Regions from separate parts of the Homo sapiens genome. Here region 2 is linked to region 1. Evidence: fine-mapped expression QTL. A gene starts in region 1. The other region holds a variant in brackets. All regions are shown on one strand. Distances are between the middles of the regions.

Region 1 (8,325 bases):
TGCCTTGACAGAACCAAAGGTTGTTGGAGGTCAAATGGCAAACTGTAGTGGCAAAAGCATAAGGATCAAAGCCAGGGTGCTCAGGTCAGAAACCCCACTTCACTGCTTCATGAAGCTATACTATTGCTTCATGGCTATACTTCAGCGCCATCATCTGTGAAATGATAATAATGGTAGTATCCACCTCACAGGGTTGAGGCAAGGATTAAATGTGAACTGCAGAGAATAGTGCCTGTCATGTCATGAGTGCTCAATTATTGTTAACTTATAATAAAAATAATAACAATAAAGTGGAATATAAACCATCTCATCGCTCTTTCTTGTCCAAGGCAGACATGACTAATCAATCATAGAACTTCCCCACTGATGGCAGATTCCCCAGAATCCTCAACACTGCATTCCAAGCAGACAATCAGAGTTGGCACATGGGATGATATCCATTCGCCCTCCCAGATCTAACCTGGACCTTTCCCATTGCAGTCAAGGAAAATGAGGCCCAGAGGAGGGACAAGACTCCCTCAAGCCACTTGGAGGCAGAGCCACGGGTCAGACAGGCGTTCCTGGTTCTGCTCGCTTCTTGCTGTCCTGGCTTCTGATGTGTCACTTCACCCTGACCTTTGAGCAGTCCGTGTGGGCCTCCCACCACTGGAAATCTCACCCTGATTTCCTCCTTCTTCTCCCACCCTTGCTCCTCCTCCTATGTCCTTGCCCCCCAAAGGCCCTGGGAAAGCTATTTTTCTGAGACGTCCTACTGAGCAGGTACAGAGTAGGGAGAAGTGGGGCAGTGAGGCCACAGAGAAACCTGAGGCCTGTGTCTGAATATCTGCAGGAGCCTCCCTGAGGAATCAAGACCTTTAGGGCTCCAAGAGAGCTGAGCCCACCAATTTGGCCCTATCACATTCAGTTTTTCAGCCTTAGCCCAGTGCTATAATGAAGTCCCTGACAGCCCAGGTCCAGGTTCTGGGAATGCTCACTCTTCACTAATAAGAGGTTGGCATGGTGAAAGACTCGGGGGCCAGCCCTAGACTTCTGTGTGGGAAAGGCTGGGAGAGACAGGACATGACAATCCCAGAGATGAGAGTCAGTGGGAAGCACCTGCTTACCAACTTCTGAGCAAAAACCTCCAAGGAAAAGTTGGGGGCTGATGGTGGAGCAGGTTCTGCTGCTGCTTTTCCCCTCGTAAACAGCTTTGTCCCAGAAGTAGACCTCTGCCACCTGAACAGTCTTTTACCTTCAGGCTCAGACTTCTGGGGAAGAATCAGTATTTACAAGGCTTGAAACCAGGAGTATCCACCTCTACCCAAAGCGCCTCCACTCTCAGCTTCTACTTAGAAACCCAATTTTCTCTTTTCCATTCCTTCCCTGCAGGGGCAGGATCAATCTGTATCATGCTGTCCCTTTGGTTATAAATAAGAAAGACATAGCTCCCGACCCTGCAGGCTGAGTTTTTCACAACAGTGGGAAGTGTTTGTGTGTCTCCATGTTCAGCTCCCCAGGGATCAATGCCTCATGGCACAGCAGGCTCATGGAGGAACACAGGATAGCAGGATGCCTGACTGTCCCTCCTCAGCCCAGTGCCCCTCTAGCTGAGCGAATGAGCCACAGGTAAGGAGACCAAGCAGGCACATTCCAGACAGACTCCTGGGAGGACACCATTCTTTTTAGTAACCTCAAAGATCCTGCTGGCTGCATTAAAGATTTCGAGGTGACCTGTCAACAGCACAGCCCCAGAAAAATTCATATTTAGCTTTATCCAAGATATCACCAGTTCCTCAGACCTGCCCACTTCTCTGGGCTTGCCCCTCTGTTCACCTGCCTTTCCCATTCTCCTATTTCCCTAGGGCCTCTAGAGTCAACAAGACAGCTGACTTGGAACCTTGCAATGTTGGATACTTTGGGATGTGATCTACCCACTCCATCTTATAGATGAGGGGACTAAGGCCACAAAGGGGATGTGACTTATCTGAGGTCAGTTATAGTGTCAAAGGTTGAACTGGAAATAGAGCCGCAGACTCCTCCAGACTTGTAGTCCAGAACTTATCCATTCTAGTCCTCTAGGATGTGTCTGCTGCCCTCCAGCCCTGAAACAGACTTCTACTAGGATATAGCAGTTACCTAGGCTAAAACGTTTGGAAATATTTATCCCTGTGGGGCATAACTGAGGGAGGCAGAACATGGGGAAGGGAGGAAGCAGGTGGGAAAACTATTCACAGGTGCTAACTGCCAGGAGGCTCCTAAACCCACAACAGCCCTTCCATCCGTCACACTCTCTGCAAAGCAGCAAGGACTCTCTCTTTCCCTTTACCCACACTCTCTGCCCAGGCTACCCTTTGGTGACTTCTGCTCTTCCTCTTTACTCTTCAAGGCTGCTCTTGTGCTCATTTTGGCCTGTTTCCTGAGGAACAACATGGTAATGAAGCTGATCTGCATGATGTGCTTGGGGATCCAACCTCCATTGGAAACGTCAATTGAGTCAAACTATGGACTCTCAAGAATGGAAACAGAAAACACAAATGAGAGACTGCATCCTGTGGCCCACCCTCCTACCTCTCCTGCTCAAGCCCTCTACTCCACCCTAGGAGGTCAAAACAAATCATACACTACTTCTGCTCTAGGTCATTGGTCATATTTTTCCCGCTAGGTCATTGATTAGCAACCCCCTAAGCAGTCCCTGAAACAATCCCGGTCCATCTGAGGAAGGAGAATTCCTAGAGAGAAGGTCACTGGGGGCCCAGCAGCACCTGCACGGGCCTCACTGCCTTCTTGTCTCTCTTCCAAGGCAGGGAGGTACTTAGCGGTGAGGAAACCAAGTCGGCCCAGAATCCCAGGCAACTTGTGAGCCACTAAGGCCCTGAATTCTGACTTTGGGAGACCCGAGGCAAGTCAGCTGCTTGCTTGGTCCTGTCTGTGTCTTAGCCATGGTAAGTTCCCTCTGCCTGGAGCCTCGTCACCCCTCATCTCAGATTCACCTGGCTAGCCCCGATTCTGCCTTCAGGGCTTGGCTTACACACTGGCTCCTCCTGGAAGCCTTCCCCAAAACCCCATGTGCTACTTCAGGGTCCCCTTCTAGGCTGCCACCACACCTCATTCTATCCTATCCTATAGCATGATTATAATTGCCTGCTTGTCTCTCCCTCCAGGAAAGTAGCTCTGGGAAGGAACAAGAGCAGGGCAGATACTTCTCTGAGATAGCTGTATCCTAAGGTTGGCTCGGTACCTGACACTAATATTAGTGCAACTAGTATTAGTTAAATGAAGGAATAGAACGAATGGGGCAATTTACATCATTTGAGTCCTGTAGAGGAGACCAAAGGGAAGGGCTGAAAGGCAGGGAACAACTCATACTCTGCGTCTTATTGTGTTGAATAACTCTAGGAAACATTCCAACCTGAAAAGCACCTATCTATTGATATTCAGAGCCCTGTGCCATCTTGGAAGGGAAACGTCCGTTTGTTTGTAACAGGTAATGCATGTGTGGTGTACAAACTGTAAAAGATAGGAAAGAGCATTCAGAGAATGTAAGTTTTCCACTTTCTCCATCCCAAATGGCTTCTTCTCCCACAGACAATTGCTGCCACTGTCTCTGGATTAGAAACCACTTGACAGAGGGGACAGCCCGGCTAAGGGCCCTGCATGGTCAGGTGAAGAGATCTTTAGGAGTCAGTGTTGAAGGCAGAAAACGCCCCCAGAGGTTCCCCTCATCCCCCGTTGCAGCCTGTGTGTCTAAGCGCTTGGCCAGAGCCAGAGAGTCGCCGGCAAGGGAAACTCCGCGGCGAGCACGCAGCAGCAGAAGGGTTAACGCGCCGGGCTCCGCCTCCCAACCGCCTCTTCCGGGCAGAGAGGCGGGCTTACGTCACTTCCTGGAGACTGGTTGAATCCGGAAGTGACCCTAGAGAAACGAGTTGTGGCTGAGGACCCCGGCGGCAGACGCAGGTTCGGGACCATGAGCTGGTGAGTGAGGCCCAGGCGGCGGGAGCTGCTGGACCCGCGGACCCGCGAGGCCCCTGGCCCTGTGTCAGTGCCGCGTCCCGGCTCCCTCCGGTCCCGCGCGACCCCTCCGCCCCAGAGCAAGGCCCGACAGCCCCTGCCCTAGGGTCGTTCCCTCGGTGCTTTCCGGAGTCGCAGTCTCTCAGCAGGACTCCCGGGGAGAGTGGCGGATGATCCTCTTAGCCTGGGACTCCGCGTCTGACCCGTTTTGCCGGACTCGCGTCCTCCTAGCTCCTTGAAGTGAGGGACTTCCTTGTTCCCTCCTTTTTTAAACACCCATTGAGGTGGAGTCAGTGTCGTCTTTCTCTCCTGTGGGCATCTCTGCCCCGCGCCAGTCCCTCCAGAGCTGTGGCCCTCGCTGTGGCAGCCTGGACCCAGTTCACTAATCAAAACCCACTCCCTTCTGGGTAACTATCCTCTTTGCACGACTTAGCAGGCTTCAAAAGACAAGGAAAACTTGCTTCTCTTTTTAAAGGGGCCAGAATTACACTCCGCACACACCCTTCCACTGTGGGATTGGACTGGTTTTAATCATTCCAGAGCTATTACTCACTGCCTGCCCTCTAAATAGGCATGGTTAAGTTTAAACTTATGGGAACTATCATGCCATGAGAAAAGAAGCCAGGGAGTCTTAGAGTAATAGAGTCACAATTCCAGTTGCTGCAGTATGATGTGATACTTGGGTCATAGTAGACACTTCATAATGGTGTATTTATTTTGTAAGACTCAGTTTGCCCAAAAGGCAATCCCCATTTGTTGCTCTCGATTATTTATGTTCACAGGAGAGAATTGTGACTTGCCTGCCTTCCTGGGGCTTTCTTAGAGGTTAGAGAATACTCATATGCAGCACCTTACCTTACCGTCAGGCCCAAGGACCTATATAGCCACAACCCTGGACCTCAGGGGATTCAACTATAGTGTGTGAATAAATTGAGCCCCAGAGATGTACAAGATTAATCAGCCCATGGACATAGGGAACATATTTGCCACTCTGTCCTCAGAGGCTAGTGTGTTTGTTTATGCAAAGCGCATGATAACCAGTTATGAATGAATTAAGATAACAGAATGTCCTTCAGGAAGGCTTTTGAAGCTTAATTTTGGCCATCAGTGGAGAACGCAAGCAGCTGATATCAGTCAGTGTCAGGGATACTTCTCTAAAGTAAAATGCGAACCATCTGTCCCCTCCCCCACCTGTTTCTTAGACCAAGATTGATGGACAAATGTCAGACAATCACCGCAAGCACGGGAGGAAAGCCTGAAGCAATGTCCTAATAAGCCCCGGCAGGAGCTTCTGCTTTTCCCTCCACCATTTGCTCCAGGAGGCCAATAAGGGGCTGGAGCCTTAAAAAGCTACCTTCCCTGTCTTGTTATAACCTAGTTAGTGGTGGGCAAAGCGGCAATTCTTCAGTTCCCTTTCCCAGAGGAATTACGTCCTTTCAGTGTCATTCTGGGCCCCCCAGTCTTGCAATATAGATATCCTTTTGGCTGCTGCGTCTTGAATCTTTGGAGTGTTCTTACCTAATTTTTCAAAGTGAAAATGAGGCAGTACAGATGCTTTATATTGCCTAGATTGGCCTTTACTGAACCAATCTTTCCTTCACAAGTTGGGAGAAGAGCACAGCAGAAACTAATAAAGGTAAATGATTCTCTGGGTGATCCGAAGCAGGTTGTTTCCACCTGTCTCACAGAAAGTTTCCCTTCTGAAAAAATAGTAGCCCATTCCTTAAAGGTTATCCTGTCAGGTTGGAGAGAATTGAGATTGACAACTGTCTAACAAGAGCTGAGATTTTCATCTAGTAGCTTTAATTTACCAGTACATGCACATCTTGGTATCTCCTTGGACTGAGAGTCACAGCCAGAAGGGTGGCTTTGTCCCTCAAAGCTGAGATTCCTTTCTCTTCCCCCTTAAAGGGCTTCTACGTCATCTCTTGCGTGGACCCTGACCCTGTCTCTCAAAGACGGGAACAGCACCGGCGCCTGGGCACACAATCACACTCAGTTCCTAGCTCAATGGCTGGCAAGGAGACCGGGGCTGGGTCCTTCTGATTCACTCCCTGAGTGGTTTTCCTGCCCCCAGAATGAATCCATCCATTCATGTGAGACTGGAATTCTCATTAGGGGAAGAGACCAGAGTGACGTAGAGCCATCATGGGAGGCTGATGCCCAAGGTCAAGTTCACCAAGTACATGGGCTGTGCCAAGCCATCATTAAATAAGGCACATGGCCCATGGTCCCCAGAGGGTAACCATTGTTCTGGGCTAGGCTGAGCTTTCAAAATGTCACAGTGAGAAATGTCCAATATTGATGCCCTTTGCACACTGTGGACTTTGCATGAAGAGTGAGAGGCCTTTGTTCTCTGCTTCCTCTGTGCAGGCAACCCGCCCACCCCCTGTTTGTTTAGTGGGTACCTGCTGCCTTCCTGCACCATCTACCCATCCACTCCCCATACACCCATCTGCCTTTCAGAAAAGTGACCCGGTGGTCTGTCCTACTAGGAAGAAGGCATTTGATATTCACATCTCAGATCACAGATTCACTTCTTGGCCTCAAGCCAAATGCTTCTCTCTCTCTCGCTCTCTTTTTCTCTCCCATTGTCCACCCCACCTCCCCCCGCCATTTGCCCCCCTCCCAACTTTCTCTCCTCTCCTCCCCACTCACCCCCTCCCTCCCTATTTCTGTCTCCCTCTTGTCTCCCTTTTCCCCTTCCTGTCTCTCTTCCCCATCTTCCAGTGTATACTCAGGTGGCTTTATTATGGTATGGAGAGAGGATTAAGTAGAATTAAGAATAGTGACCTCAATCTAAGCTGGCTCCAGGAATTGTAGCCTCCTGTTGAACCATACACCTTGATGATTTTAGGCTTAAACGAGGAGGAAAAGGGAGTACTGGAAGAAATCTCCCTATACCTAGGGGTCCAGTAGTTTGACAAAAAGGAAGGAAATTAGAGGCAGAGCAGGTAAGTGTGAGTAGGAGTTAGAGTGCTGCGTTCAGGTTCTGGCTCAGCCACTCACAGTGCGGCCTGGTCAAGCATTGAGCTGTTCTCTGTCTTAGTTTCTCCATCTGTAGCATGGAGTGGCCATTCCTGCTGACAATTTGCCACCTGAGCCTGCTGTGAAATGAGTGGAGTGATATTTTTCTGACTCTTCCGGGGTCTTCTACCTCTGTCTGCCCTTCACACTTTGGTGTTCCTCATGTTTGATCCTTTTTGTTTCTTTCCTGTTTTCACCCTGTAGTCCCTTGCCATCATCTTCAGGATAGAGGCCCAACTCTGGGCCAGGGCTTCTGAGGCCCTCTGGGCCTGGCTGTCCATCTTCACTCCGTGTGTTCCATCCTCCAAGCTTCTCCTGCTCTCTCGTGCCCATGTGCCTCTGGATAACTGTCCCTTCTGCCTGAAATGTTTCCCCTTCACTCACACCCTGTCCACTAGGCCAGCATCTACTCATCCTTCAAGAGTCAGGCCACGCTTCACCTTCTCTGAGGGTCTTCCCTGAGTGGCCCCTCACACCCTGCCATGCTGCACTGGGTGCCGCTCTTCTGACCTTCATCAGCATCTGTACTCCGCTGGCTGGTTTACTTGTCTGTGAGTTCTTGAGTATGGGGACTGTCTTGTGGTCATTGCTATTCCCTAGCACTGTTCCTGGCAGTCAGGAAGTGTTTATTAAATATATGAATGGGGCCTTTTTTCCCTTTTCCTGACTTGCCTCAGCTCAGGAAAAATGTTAAGATAAAAACTTGCAGAACCTACAAACCACTTCCTAAAATGAAGAGCCTCTGAAAGTACTATTGTTAAATTGACCGACACAAGTGGCTTCCAGGTCAGGCTGCCTGTGATTTCTCCTCCCCACTCCTTCTGATCCTCCACTCCAAAGTGCTTTGCTGGGTTTCTTCTGTACTTCCATAGTGCTTCTCCTGTAGCACTTCTGCATCCTTCTGAGTATCACAGACGTACACCTCCCTTCCACACCAACCCCATGAGAACAGGAGCGACATAGAGCTTCTTCATCTTTTTGTACGCATAGTGGGTATCATGCACATAGTGGGTATCTAACAGGTAATTGTTAAATGAATGGAATATAAAGAAGGTAAACTTCTGGGTCAAACAAAACCATTATTCAGTTTTTTTCTCAGTGAAGTCCTTTCCCCTATGATTACCGTTGCTGTCTCACATGTGTAGAGTGCTTCTAACTTTTCAGATGGCTTTCCCGTCCTTTGTCTGACTTCATGCTTATGTCTGCGCAAGCAGTGCAGTCTTATGATCCCCCTTGGTAACTTACTAGAATTCACTCAGCTAGTACCTGGAAGAACTAGAACTAAAATGTGTCTCCTGAGTATTCTGTCCC
Region 2 (8,325 bases), 34 kb after region 1:
CCTCATTCCTGCTGTCCAAAAGGCCCATCATAGTCAGCAAGTAAATTTGTATCTGGCAGTTGTTTATCTCCACCACCAGGGCCCATGTCTGTTTGAATCACCAGGGTATCCCCAGAACCTGGCAGAATGCATCGCACTTAATAGGTGCTCATACATGTTCGTAGGAATGAATGTTGTTTAAATTTGAAACAAAAAGACCTGAACCAGGACTCTGGATTCTAGCCTTGCATTGCCACCAGAATGTCCTGCATCCTTAGGGAAGTCACTCCTGTCTCTGGGCTTCGGGCTCCTCATTTGTAGCATAAATGCTGTTTTGTCATTCCAGGGCTATGTTGAATTAATCTAAATCCAAACGTGGAGTGCTAAGGTTAAGGGGCTTAGAATTCTCTCATCAGGTCAGCGTTGCTGGAAGACAGTGGTAGGAATAGCGTGGCTTTGACAGTTTCTGCAGATGTGTACTCCCTGACCCTCAGAGCAGAAGTCAGGATCTAGGGCTCTTGGGGACAGGATTCCCAGGGAGCAGCCAGGAAGACTTCTTTCTTGGGTCAGCAAATGCCTTCCAGGAGAATGATGGTTACGAACACAGGCTGTGGAGCCAGGCTGCCTGGGTTCCATTCCCACTGTGCTCAACTCTACCCCTCACCAATGGGGTGACCTTGGCCAGGGTACGTAACCTGGTTCCCGGTGACCTGCCTTGGAGATGAGTGTAGAGAACTGCATTCTTGTAAAGCACACAGTGAGGGCTCTGTGAATGTGAGTTAGCGGTTTTGACTTCTCAGAGCACGAAGCCCGAAGCTGGCACCTGACGGCTGCAGCTCTGGCCAGGGAGGGCAGGCCTCTAGCTTAGTCTCCTTTGCCTCTCGATGTCATTTACTTCCCATTGCATGCCCATAAGAGACCAATCATGAGGCTCCGTTTTACAGATAGTGAAGTCAAGGCACCAGAAGAAAGTACTAGACTTCTTAACTTCATCTTCCGCAACAAGTGCAGCCCCGGGTTCAGGACTCACCCATTTGGTTTCAGTGTTGCTGGCTCTCAAGAGAGTTGATACCCGGTCGGGAATGGAGAGAGCCTGACCTGAGTCAGTAGTCACAGTGTCTGTGTTTGATGCATCCCAATCACAAAGCACAGGTGCACGATTGTTCCTGACCCACCCTGAGCCCAGCAGGGGCAGGTGGCCCTGAGTGGAGGGCCGCGTAGGAGGGGAGGTGCCCTGCATGGACCTGGAAACTAGGAAAAGGCAGAGACAGACCCCCAATTCCAGACCCGCCCTCTCCTCTGCACTCTGCTGCCTTCCTGGATGGGGTCCAGTCACGTTCTGAGCACCCTGACTGCCTCCAGCCTGGGGTGAGGAGGGCATGCAGCGAGTGCCTTGCTCCCAGCTGGGAAGAGCAGAGCCACAGTCCGCTGGCACCTGCCTGGCTGGACCCTCTGGGAGGGGAGCCTTCCTCCGTAATTCAAACACTTAATTAACTTGGGATCTCAGAAATACCGTGTCAGGAGCGATCTGTCGGTGCTTGTGTGAACTGGACCATGTTGTTTTCTGCGGACTGGGGCAGGGTGTGGAGAGAGTTTCAGGAGGCTGGGAGGTTTTTTCCACCGTGTTGTCATTTCTCCGATAATTGAGTTATCTCTCTCGTTTCAGGTGGAGAGAGACTTTGAAAGGGAGTATGGAAAACTTCAGCAGTGAGTGTCAACCCCAGAAAGATGAGGTGGGAGGCAGGGAGGGACAAGGGCCCCCTGCCAGGTCTCACCTGTCTGCCCCGTGCCCTGCCCCGTGAGCACCCTGGAAGCTGAGGGCAGCTCAGGTCACCAGGCTGCTGGAACTGTTCCCTGGCAATGGCCATGTGAGAGTCATTCACTCATAGCCTTTGGGTGTAGTGGCACTTCAGTCAGCGGGAAAAGTCCCCGTGGAGAAGATCCCTTTCTCCTCCTCCTTGGCAGGCCCTCCAGAGCACCTGGGCTTCGCTCAGGTAGGGGGAAGGAAGGGGACCCCAAGCAGCCCGTCCCCTGCCTTGCAGGCTGGAAGAGCAGACCCGGAGGCTGCAGAAAGACATGAAGAAGAGCACCGACGCAGACCTGGGTAGGTGACTTTCCACCCGCACCACTCGCTTGAGCAGGTGGGGCAGAGGTGGGCACCCTCCTCTCTCAGCCCCCCAAGGGCTCTGAAGTTGCTGCGCTCAGAGGACGTGTACCCAGTGTCCTGAGAAGCAGCCTCAGGGCAGTCACTCCTCACCAGTCACATCCCACTTTGCACAGAGCTCGCACTGCCCCACTCTGGATGTGGGTGCTGGGGCAAGGCTCTCCTGGGACTCCAGTCAGGACAGTACAGCAGCTGGTGGAAGCTTCTGGTAGCAGATGCCTCCATTGCCTCAGAATCCTGGCCACCGGCTCAGGCTGTCCAGAGGGAAAGGGAAGCACATTCCTTCCCGCAGAAACGAGACTCCGTGGCCTGCTGGGACAGGCGCTCCAGTGGCAACAAGAATGGAAGCTGTCATGTGTTTAAACAGGAGGTTGGGTTAAAGTGTAAGGCCAGAAATACCCCAGATAATTCTATGATGACAAAGGGCACCGGGAGGTCCTTGGGAAGTGGGGGCCAGCAGGTGCTGGGAAACAGCCAGGGCCCTTGGGGAGGTTTCTTGGCTGGAGAGCTCTTGTTTGAAACAAGGAGGAACCAGGCCTGGGAGCCTAGAGACACAAGCAGGTCGGGAATAAGGGAGCATCCAGAGCCCTTGCTGCAGGCCATGTCCCAGGAAGGAGGCGACGAGCAGCCGGGAGAGATGGAGACCATTCCTTGAGGTTCTTTCTCCAAGGCCTTGACTTTCCCACCCCGGAGCAGCAAGCACTTGACCAAAGGTTGATCAATAGCTTCAGCACTCCCTGCGCAGCTCTGGACAGCTGACTTAGCTCTACCTCAGTTCCGTCACCCGAGAAGCACAGGTAACGCCAATCCGAGTGGCACAGGCTGTTGCTGAAGATGAAGTTGGATGAGCAACGTAAAGCACTGAGAACAGGGCCTGGCACGGGTCAGCTCTCGGGGTGTCCGCTCCTGTCATCACCGTCGTCATGGTCGGCAGCAAGCCTCCCTGACTGGGTGGACTCCTGCAGCTCCTTCCCTGGGTCCAGTGGGGAAGCCGTGTCTATATACCACACTGGGACGAGGACCTGAAAGAGACTTGGGTATGGCCAGGACTGCCCACTTCCTCTCACTCAGCAGATGCTGACCGAGAACCCACGTGCACCAGGCACTCTCAGCACTAGAGACTCAACAGCAAGACAAGATGGGAGCTTACGTTCTAGGAGGAAGACCTGCAAGAGGTCCACAAGCGGATCGGTATATAATGACACGTCGTGGCGTGCAAGGTCAATAAAAATAAGGAGGTGGAGAGTGACAGGGTCAAGGGAGGCCTTCGTGGGGACGTGATCCCTGGGCAGAGTCCTGAAGGAATGAATAACCCACACAGGTAGAGCCAAGGGAAGAGGGCCTGAAACACAGTGGACAGCAAGCGCGGAGGCCCTAAGGTGGTGCACGCTGACCAGAGATGCAGGAGAGGCAGCAGGAGGGTGGAGAAGCCATCTTCAGTCCCCTCGGCCACTCCAGCTGCTGAATAATGCCATGTTATGGCTGTGAAGAAATTTCACCTCCCTGAGCTTTTCTGACCTTGAGATTGGCAGGGCACATGACACACCCATTTTATAAATGGGCATGTCCATTTGATAAAGGAGGAAGAGTTCAGCTCCTCTTCTCCAAGTCCAGGGCCTTGTCTCCACAGCGAAGCCTCCCCATGCCCCACTCATTCCTTTGCCCACCCCCGTGCCCGCCACCAAACTAGAAGGTGACCGAAACAGCCCCCACTCCGGAACCGTTGCCCATCCACTCTTTGCTTGGCTGTCTGTGAGCCTAGTGCAAATGGGGCGGCCTCACTGTCTCCTGACACCATTCAAAGGGCCACAGGGCAGTGGGCACCTACGGGTGGGACTTGAGGACCAGTGTGCTCCTACTTGGTACTGCAGTTACGAGGAAAACCCTTGAAATGTCCC[A/TA]ATAGAGGCAGTGATTTGAATTTGTTCCCATTTTATGCCAGCTCCTAAGCCTCAGCCAGTTACTGATGTGTAAACACACCTTTCCTACAAAGCACTGATCACAAAAGGAAAGCGTTCCTTCCCTGGGAGCCGCCGTCACCACCACCATGCCCGGGTGAGCGCTGACTGCCTGTGCAGGGACTGTGGCCGTCTTGGTCTGTGCCATGAATTTTCATGCCAGTGCTAATTCCTGGGCCGTGGGCTGGTCTGAACATGCACCTTGCTCCTGGCCTCTAGCGTTGCCAAACTATGTGTGTCACAAGCCAAGGACTGGATTTGGGAGTTTGTCTGCAGTTGTTTGTTTTGTAGTTATTTCAGGTCTGAGTTACTTGGGTCGCATTTTTCTTGATCGGTCCCCACTGCCTTTCCAGTTCGGGAGCTGCTGTGAGCCATTGCTTCCTTTCCTTCCTGCTTCTGCAGACAGCTGCATTGTCAGAGCATAAACGAAGCCAGGGTGTGCTGTGTTCACAGTGGCTTGCTACGGAACCAAGGAGGGCATCAGGGGTCCGTGACGCACCGTCCATGGCTGTGGAAAGCTTAGTTTCCCAGCAGAGAAACCAGAGTTGAATGGGTAACTGCAGAAGCCTAACACTACTGTCCTCAGTCAGGAATGGATGTGGGCAGAGACAGTGCCTCTGAAGAGCGGTGGTGGTGGTCATGGGGCCAAGGCGAGCCTGACAGCCACATCAGTCTCATGTACGGGGCATCAGTGTTGTAGGCGGGCTTGCTGTGCCGTGGGCCGCTGGGCCCCACCTCCAGCCTCCAACTAACTCATGAGCTGGGCGAGACCTGAAAATGTGTGTCCCTGGAGTTCCCAGGTGATGCTGAGGCCCACACTGTGAGCTCCACTGATCTGGACAGTTGAGGGGAATGGAGGGATGCTTTTCCTGAGCGTGGAATCTCCTGCGCTCCCCCAGCAAGGTGGAAAATCCCCAGTTATTCTAAAAAAGATGACCTTTCTTTCAGAAACTCATACTACTTTCAGAGTGCTCTGGTGAATCTTTGAATCTTACATTCCAGAGGCCGCATCAGGACTCCAGAGACCCGGGTGGGGTCCAAGACCCTCACTTTCTCTAAGGTTCAAAGATCACCAGCCTCCTGGTGTGGGCCAGGCTGACTGTGCCCCTCTCCCAGTCCCTGCAGGGAACAATGAGGGGTATGGGCTGGGGCAGGGACCACAGGTCCAGAGGGGCATGGAGACCTGCTGTTTATTTTTGTTGAGGGGGAACAGAGTCACACTGTGTCATCCAGGCTGGTCTCGAACTCCTGGGCTCAAGGGATCCTCCTGCTTCAGCTTCCCAAAGCACAGGGATTACAGGCATGAGCCACTACGCCCAGCCAAGACCATGGTGTTCTTGGTGTCATCTACCCCAGCTCTGCTCTGCTCACATGAAGCGGGGGCATCACTGGGCGGGGATTCCAGACCCAGTTCTGCCCAGGGCCGGCCACTGAGCCCACTCAGTTCCTTGACTTCCTGACAATGCAAGAGCTTTAGGAAAGAAAGGGGAAAATGCAGCTGGGCTGGGCGCAGTGGCTCACACCTGTAATCCCAGCACTTTGGCAGGCAAAGGCAGGTAGATCACCTGAGGTCAGGAGTTCGAGACCAGCCTGGCCAACATGGTGAAACCCCGTCTCTACTAAAAATACAAAAATTAGGTGGGTGTGATGGCAGGCACCTGTAATCCCAGCTACTTGAGAGGCTGAGGCAGGAGAATCACTTGAAGCCAGGAGGCGGAGGATGCAGTGAGCCGAGATGATGCCATTGCACTCCATCCAGCCTGGGTGACAAGAGCGAAACTCCGTCTGAAAAAAAAAAAAAAAAGGAAAGTGGAAAGACCGTGTCCTCGCTCCTCTGGCTTTTTGGGTTGTTTTCCTCAGATATTTTTTTAAGAAATAGCAGAAGATGTTTTTCAGAAACATTTCCAGCTTTATCCAGAATTTTATTATCTTTTTATTATGCTGTATGTGATCATTTCATAATCAAATCAAGTTATACGTAACGTTTGTTCCTAAATCTACAGAGTCACTCCACAGAATTTAAGAGGTGTTTTTCCCTCCGTTGCTTCAACATTTCTGGAAAGTTTACATTTCCAGCCTTCTCCCACAGTTTGCCCTTTTGCTGGTTGACTGTAGCACTCTCCCAGATTCCAGAAAAACCCCAGGAGGGTGCTCCGGGCTGGCTAGTCCGCTCAGCGCTGCTTTGCTGACTGGTGAAGGGGCCTGGCGGAGGCAGACCCTTCCCCGGGGAGCGCAGGGTCAGGGTTCAGGTTCATGCCATGGAGTGCTAGGCAAGGCCACATCTGTGATTAACTGGGAGGCAGACCTTATGTCATGGGTCCTAAGACACTTTTTCCACAGTTAATGTCTCTGAAATCAAAGTACTGAAAGTGTAGCCTGGTTTGATTGACAACAATTTTTTCTCCCTTAGTAGTTCATACAATAAGTGACTTATAATGAAGAGCATCTTAAATTCAGTAACATGCATATGGTAAGAAATGCATTCACAATGTGTCTTCTCTCCTGAGACCTGCCCCAGATGCACTCTGACACTGGTACAGACGGCATCAGGCCAGCATGACCCTTCTCCAGGGCCGCTTCCTGCCCCTCCAGAATTTTGTTTCTAGAATCTAGAAATAATGGAGGCCTGAAAACATGTTCAGGACCAAGAGCTCCAAAGCTGCCAGCAGGTCTCCAGCCCGCCTCTGAGCCGCCTGTGACTCCCAGGCTTCCCATCTGCCCAGCAGGGAATGTCAACACAGGAGGGAGGAGCACAGAGGGGTGGGCGGCACATTCATGGGGATCCGGTACCAGGGTGCCTTGAAAAACGTCAGTGGATGCCTGATGGACAGAGCCTGATGGACCTGTCCACTGGCTTCCTCTAGGCCAGATCAGAAGGAGAGCAGTGAACAGGGAAGCAGCTGCCCAGGGTCAAGGGTCAGGGCCCGGCTGGCGCACTCAGCCGTTTGACCTTGGAGGCATTACAAACCCTTTTGCGCCTAATCTGCCTCCTCGCTAAAATGGAACCAAACTACATTTCCGCTAGACATCCCCTGGGTTGTTTGAGCCCTAAATGAGAGTGCATGGGAACCTTGGCAGAACCCTAAGATGGGGACCTGCTGGCAGCTTTGGAGCTCTTTGTCCCGTACAAGTCCCCAGGTTTCCATTATTTACAAACAAAATTCTGGGGGAGCAGGAACAGACCCGGGAGGAGGGCCCTGCTGTCCCAGTCCCGCCTGTACCAGCTGCAGTGTGTGTCTGGGCGAGTCTTGGGGGAAAACACATTTTCCAGCGTATCTCTTCCTACTGGATATTGAGGAAACCAGGGGTTGGCAGGGTGCAGCTGCTGGCCTAATCTGACCTAGTTTTGTCAATAAAGTTTTATTGAAACAGCCACATCCCTTTTTTTATGTGTTGTCGCTGGCAGTTTTCACAGCACAAGGCAGAGTTGAGAAGTTGCAACAGAAATTGTATGGCCCACGAAGCCTGAAATATTTACTGTTGGGCCTTTTGTAGTAAAAGCATGTGTAAACTGGAGTACTGTTATTCTTGTCCATCCAGGAGTCCCAAACCAAGCATCACGTCCAAACCACTTGGAGAGCGGTTTTAAATGCATATTCTTGGGTACCGGGTTTACTGAATTAGAATCTTTGGAGCCAGAAACATATTTTATAGCCTCCCACCCAGATGGTCCTTTTCTAACCCAGGGTTTGGAGAACAGGTAAAGCGGCTCAAAAGAATTGTCTGGAGCAGTGTTAGGGTCAGGAATGAACATTAAACCATGGGGATCAGCAGCTTGTGGTTGTGTGGTACTTCGCCGTTCTTGACGGCCGTGGCTGTGGGAAGAGGTCTTCAGGGTGCAGGCCCCTGGCATAGGAGGACGGGGTCCTGGAGAGAAGGCCGTGAAACCTGCCCCTTCATAGAAGGTTCACCGAGCTTTGGCTTCCCACAGCCATGTCAAAATCTGCCGTGAAGATATCCTTGGACTTACTCTCCAATCCCCTCTGTGAGCAAGACCAGGACCTTCTGAACATGGTGACGGCCCTGGACACGGCCATGAAGCGGATGGATGCCTTCAATCAGGAAAAGGTGACTAGGTCTTGGTGTGGGGTGGGCAAGCATGACTTCTGCCCGGTCTGGGCCTCTGGGTGGACTGTGCGGGGAGGCCCGAGTGGGCTCCCTCTGCTCTCAGGGCTCTAAGCCCTCTGGCCTCGTGTGCTGCAAGGTGCTGCAAGCCCACAGGGCTCT

Evidence for each region. PIP is the estimated chance that this variant, and not a neighbour inherited with it, causes the effect.
Region 2: its variant is fine-mapped to the expression of BIN3 in fibroblasts (GTEx, PIP 0.97).

What each region holds. Positions count from the first base shown.
Region 1 is chr8:22,664,670-22,672,994 of GRCh38, reverse strand. It overlaps BIN3 (bridging integrator 3), which reads left to right and starts at 3,874. Exons shown (of 9, transcript NM_018688.6): 1 at 3,874-3,951. The coding sequence starts at 3,944. RefSeq lists a cis regulatory region at 1-15, enhancers at 3,705-3,764, 3,522-4,151 and a silencer at 4,015-4,174.
Region 2 is chr8:22,630,283-22,638,607 of GRCh38, reverse strand. BIN3 (bridging integrator 3) reads left to right here. Exons shown (of 9, transcript NM_018688.6): 3 at 1,646-1,686; 4 at 2,022-2,083; 5 at 8,030-8,166. Among named protein-coding and RNA genes, the nearest start is that of BIN3-IT1, 7.8 kb to the left of the region's middle. RefSeq lists enhancers at 6,406-6,940, 6,941-7,475. The variant A/TA (reference allele first, on the strand shown) is at 4,042.